2 separate regions of the Homo sapiens genome follow, and region 2 is linked to region 1. A link means that fine-mapping ties the variant in region 1 to the expression of a gene that starts in the linked region. Tissue or cell type: whole blood. Region 1 holds a variant in brackets; the other region holds the start of a gene. All regions are shown on one strand. Distances are from middle to middle.

Region 1 (2,757 bases):
TTCAAGCAATTCTCGTGCTTCAGCCTCCCAGGTAGCTAGGATTACAGGCACCCGGCACCACGCCCAGCTAATTTTTGTATTTTTAATATAGACAAGAGACAGGGTTGCACCATGTTGGCCAGGCTGGTCTCAAACTCCTAACCTCAAGTGATCCGCCCACCTAGGCCTTCCAAAGTGCTGGGATTACAGGTGTGAGCCACCACGCCCATCCAAATACATATAGTTCTTAATATGTACTACAGACTGTTTCAAAGGCCTTGCATCTATTTGCTCATTTTATCCTTCTAACACCCTTATGAGGTAGGAACCATTATTTTCCCAATGTTACAGGTGAGGAAATTAAGGACCAGAGACCAGAGAGGTTGAGTAATTTGCTGCTAAGGGACAGCATTAGCATTTAAATCAAGCAGTCTGCCTCTCTGGGCTGTGCTCTTAACCACTACTCTATATTTATTATTTTGCTACATACAAAACAACGTTCACAATGGAATGTGGAGTGGCATGTTTGCACGCAGCTGGGATGCAAGACACCTTGAGAGTAGGGCACTGAGATTATATTTCAAAATGATATAATATCTGCATCCCTAAAAGTGCATTTTTCTAAGTTACTTTTGCTATCTGTTCTTCAAAGTCTATCTGGAGAATACAAAATAATCCTTCAAGCCAGTCACAAAAGATCACTTATTATATAATTCCATTTATATGAAATATTCAGAATAGTTAAATCTATAGAGGCAGAAAAGTTAGTAGTTGTTTATGGCTGGTGAGGGGACAGATGTGAGGATAGGAAGGTGATAGCTAAAGAGTTTGGAGTTTCTTACCAGGTGCTGTGGCTCACGCCTGTAATCCCAGCACTTTAGGAGGCCATGACAGGTGGAACATCTGAGGTCAGGAGTTCGAGACCAGTCTGACCAACATGGTAAAACCCCAACTCCATTAAAAATACAAAAAAATGGGCCAGGCGCAATGGCTCACCCCTGTAATCCCAGCACTTTGGGAGGCCGAGGTGGGTGGATCACGAGGTCAGGAGATGGAGACCAACCTGGCCAACATGGTGAAACCTTGTCTCTACTAAAAATATAAAAATTAGCTGGGTGTGGTGGCGCGCACCTGTAATCCCAGCTACTTGGGAGGCTGAAGCAGGAGAATCGCTTGAACCTTGGAGGCCGAGATTGCAGTGAGCCCAGATCATGACACTGTACTCCAGCCTGGCAACTGAGCGAGACTTCATCTCAAAAA[A/T]ATAATAATAATAACACAAAAAATTAGCTGGGCATGTTGGTGTGCACCTGTAATCCCATCTACTCAGGAGACTGAGGCAGAATTGCTTGAACCCAGGCCGCAGAGGTTGCAGTGAGCCAAGATCATGCCACTGCACTCCAGCCTGGGGGACAGAACGAGGTTCCGTCTCAAAAACAAAAAAAAAAAAATTGAGGGTTTCTTTTTGAGGTGATGAAAAGGTTCTAAAATTGACTGATCATTCACATCTCTGTGAATATACTAAAAACCATGGAATTGTATACTTCATATGGGTGAATTGTATGGTATGGGGATTATATTTGAATAAAACCATTATTTAAAAAAATACTTCACAACAAATTTGTCTTTAATTAAGTTTCTTGTACAGTGAAAGTCTGTCATTTAAATTTCTCTTTACCCATTTTATATTTACTGCTTCTCCAAGAATAAGGCATTCACAGCAGAAGTAGTTTTGGTACTTGGTGGATTCAAATGGCATGTTGGTCAGCTACAGCCAGCAACTGCTAGAAAATTATCTTTAACCTTTAAAAATTATTATTACAAATAAAAATTTACTACAAATATTTTGGCGGTGTCCATTCCCAGAAAAGTCTTGTTAAACATAAAATTGTTTTTCTTATAACAGTTTATTTTGGAGTAATTTTAGACTGACATAAAAGTTGTGCAGGTGGTATGGAGAATCCACCTATAATCCTCACTCAGTTTCAATTTCCCCTGATGTTATCATCTTACATTATGGTGATACATCTGTCAAAATTAGGAAACCAACATCAGGATATTACTATTAATGAAACTCCAAGCCAGGCGCCGTGGCTCACGCCTGTAATCTCAGCACTTTGGGAGGGTGAGGCGAGTGGACCATTTGAGGTCAGGAGTTTGAGACCAGCCTGGCCAACATGGTGAAACCCCGTGTCTACTAAAAATACAAAAATTAGCCTAGCAGTAGTGGCACGTGCCTGTAATTCCAGCTACTCAGGAGGCTGAGGCAGGAGAATCGCTTGAGCCTGGGAGGCAGAGGTTGCGGTGAGCCAAGATCGGGCCACTGCACTCCAGCCTGGGTGACAGAGTGAGAGTGTCTCAAAAAACAAACAAACAAATAAAACCCAAAACTCCAGACTTCATTTGGATTTATTATTCCACTAATTCCCTTTTTTTGTTGGAGGTCCCAATCCAATACTACATACTCACTATATTTAGTCATCATGTCCCCTTCGACTCCTCTGGGGCCTGTGACAGTTTTTAAGACTTTCCTTGTTTTTCATGCCCTTGACAGTTGGAGTACATCTAGTATTTTGTAAAATATCTCTCGATATGAGCTTATCTGATGTTTTTCTCATGAGTAGGCTGGAGTTATGAGTCTGGGGAAGATTATCACAGTGCTAAAGCGGCCTTCTTGTCACATTCCACATGAGATCCACATGACTTACCACTGGTGCTGTCAACATTCATCACGCGGTTAAGGTGGTGTCTTTCAGGTTTTTCCACTTCAATGTTATTATT
Region 2 (2,626 bases), 160 kb after region 1:
CAAGGTGGGGTAACTGAAGCAAAGAACCATTCATGTAACTTTGCTAAGTTCACACAACTTGTTGGAATGCAATCCACATCTGTGTGAGTATAAACTCCCTGCTTTTTCAGCTTCACCAAGATCCCTCTTTTTTTTTTTTTTTTTTTTTTTTGAGACGGAGTCTCGCTCTGTCTCCCAGGCTGGAGTGCAGTGGTGCGATCTTGGCTCACTGCAACCTCTGCCTCCCTTCCTTTTATTGGGGCACTATAGTATATGAAATAGATCATCAAGAAGTAATTGAGGTTCTTCCAGAATTTCCTGAACAATGAAATTAACAAGCACTGTTGGTAAATAATAAAAATGCTGGATTAATTTGAAAAAAAAAAAAGTACTAGAATGTTTCTATTCAGGCCGCACCTGAAAATGTGCTACTTATACTAATTAAAAATCCTCAGGCAAGAGACAACTGTGCCCAATTTTCAAGTTTTTTGTTTTGTTTTGTTTTGTTTTGTTGTTTTGTTAATTGTTGACCACGTCCTGAGTTCAGAGCGAATCCTCTGGGTGTTTAATAGGAAACAGATAATTTCTTTCTGAACCTAGCCTACACAAAGAAATCCAAAAGCGTGAGGAAGTGTGTGCTCTCCCCCTTCCCCTCATGGAATTAACTTTGTAGGACCACCTGGCCAGTGAGGCACCCAGATAGGAAACTTTTAATTTGCGTCAACAGAGGTGCTTTATCTGAATAAAACCCAGCCAGAGCCAGAGCGAAGGGGAGAGAGAGAATTGCTGACCAGAAGAACAGGAGAAGCAGGGAGGGAAGTGACCTTAAGAACACACACGGCCCGCGCATCCCACCCCACCAGAGTCTTTAACCCAAAGCCTCTGGGTTTCTCTAGCAGCTATGGGCAGGTGCCCTCCTCAGCCCGAGCCAGCTGCCCGCCCCACCCCGCCTTTTGGCCTCGCGCGGGCGTCGGTGGCCTGCAGGACTGGCAGGCATCCAGGCGCCAGGCGGAGCGCTGAGGGAGGCTCCCGCCGGCCGAACAGCGGGGAGACCCGTGAAGCAGGCGCACCGGCCACGCGCCCGGAGGGACAGGGACAGGGACCGGCAGGGGTGGGCCCGCCGCCAACCCGCCGGGCACCCCGCGGACTCGGGCCTAGCCAGCGACTCCCCCCGCCCTTCCCGCGCCCTGTCTCGCGCCCCGTCGCCTTCCTCCCGCGCCCCGTCGCCTTCCTCCCGCGCCCCGTCTCCCTCCTCCCGTGCCCCGTCTCCCTCCTCCCGTGCCCCAGGCCCTCAGCCCCCCACTTGACGGGCGCAGGGAAGGGGCGGGTGCCGCGCTCTCCTCCCGGCCCGCAGTCCCCTACCCGCGGCTCGAGCGCGCTGTACCTGGGGTTCTGGGGCCGCCCTCACCCTTGCGCCGCCGCCACCACCACTGCCGCCGGCCTAGCTCCCCCAGGACCGAAAGTGAAAGTGGAGCCCGGGGAGCGGCAGGCTGGCGCTGAGCGGCGCTTCGGCCCGAGCCCTAGCGGCAGGCGGGGAAGCCCCTGGCTAAGGCGGGAGCTGGGGAAAGGGTAAACGGGAGTGGGGCCGAGCGAGGGAAGCCGCAACTCCCAGGAAGGGAATTGGTAAATGAGCGCTGCACGCCGGGGAAGCTGCGAGGTTGCGATGCGGGGGATCAGGCGTAGGAAGTGCACGCCTTTCTGAACGCGGATCCGTGTGTGTGTGTGTGTGTGTGTGTGTGTGTGTGTGTGTGTGTGTGTGTGTGTGTGTGTGTGTGTGTGTGTGTGTTGAGATGCTTTTTGTTTTTGTCTTTTTTTTTTTTTCACTGTTTAGCGTTGCGAGGGTTAGGGGCATGCAGGAAAGGGCCGGTGCTCAAGTTGGGGACCGAAGCCAGGCAGGCGCTGACAAGTCCACCAAGCCTAGACGCGTTCGACGCCCATTGGACTCGCTGGGTGTCCGTCATCTCGCCACTGCCAGTGGGCTGAGAGCTCTTGGCCCGCCTCGGAAAGAAACATGAACCCAGTACTCTGTCGTGGCAAAGTGCCGCACCTTCTGGGGCTTCGGTAGAGAATGACTACAGTGGGAGATGCTGTAGAGGAGGAAGGTGGGTTAGAGGTGGCCCCCAGGACTTTCCTGCACTACCAAGGGCCACTGTACCCCAAGGATTAGCTGCTTCCCGCATCAACACGTTCCCTCTGATTTTTCAAAGTAAATGACCATTTCTTCACTCCCCTTAGAACAATTAAAGCTGAATAAAATGGCCAAAAAGACCATCTTTAAACAGTTGAGGCTAAATGAGGTAACAAGTCAAGAAAACACAAACATTAAAACACCAAATGCTACAAGTTTATTACCGAAAATGGGTCCCGATCCAGACCCCAAGAGAGGGTTCTTGGATTTTGCGCAAGAAAGAATTTGAGGGGAGTCCATGGAGTAAAGTGAAAGCAAGTAATTAAGAAACTAAAGGAATAAAAGAATGGCTACTCATAGGCAGAGCACCCCCAAGGGCTGTTGGTTGTCCATTTTTAGGGTTATTTCTTGATTATATGCTAAGCGGGGGAAATTATTCATGCCTCCCCTTTTTAGACCATATAGGGTAGCTTCCCGACGTTGCAGTGGCATTTGTAAACTGTCATGGAGCTGGTGAGA

What was found. PIP is the estimated chance that this variant, and not a neighbour inherited with it, causes the effect.
Region 2: it holds the start of ERAP1, and the variant in region 1 is fine-mapped to the expression of ERAP1 in whole blood (GTEx, PIP 0.96).

Annotation. Positions count from the first base shown.
Region 1 is chr5:96,642,638-96,645,394 of GRCh38, forward strand. It overlaps a transcript of CAST not described here. Among named protein-coding and RNA genes, the nearest start is that of CAST, 18 kb to the right of the region's middle. The variant A/T (reference allele first, on the strand shown) is at 1,240.
Region 2 is chr5:96,806,497-96,809,122 of GRCh38, forward strand. It overlaps ERAP1 (endoplasmic reticulum aminopeptidase 1), which reads right to left and starts at 1,449. Exons shown (of 19, transcript NM_001040458.3): 1 at 1,364-1,449. LOC124901033 (a long non-coding RNA gene) reads left to right here and starts at 962. Exons shown (of 3, transcript XR_007058879.1): 1 at 962-2,081. RefSeq lists a silencer at 870-1,329 and enhancers at 902-1,403, 1,404-1,903, 2,060-2,129.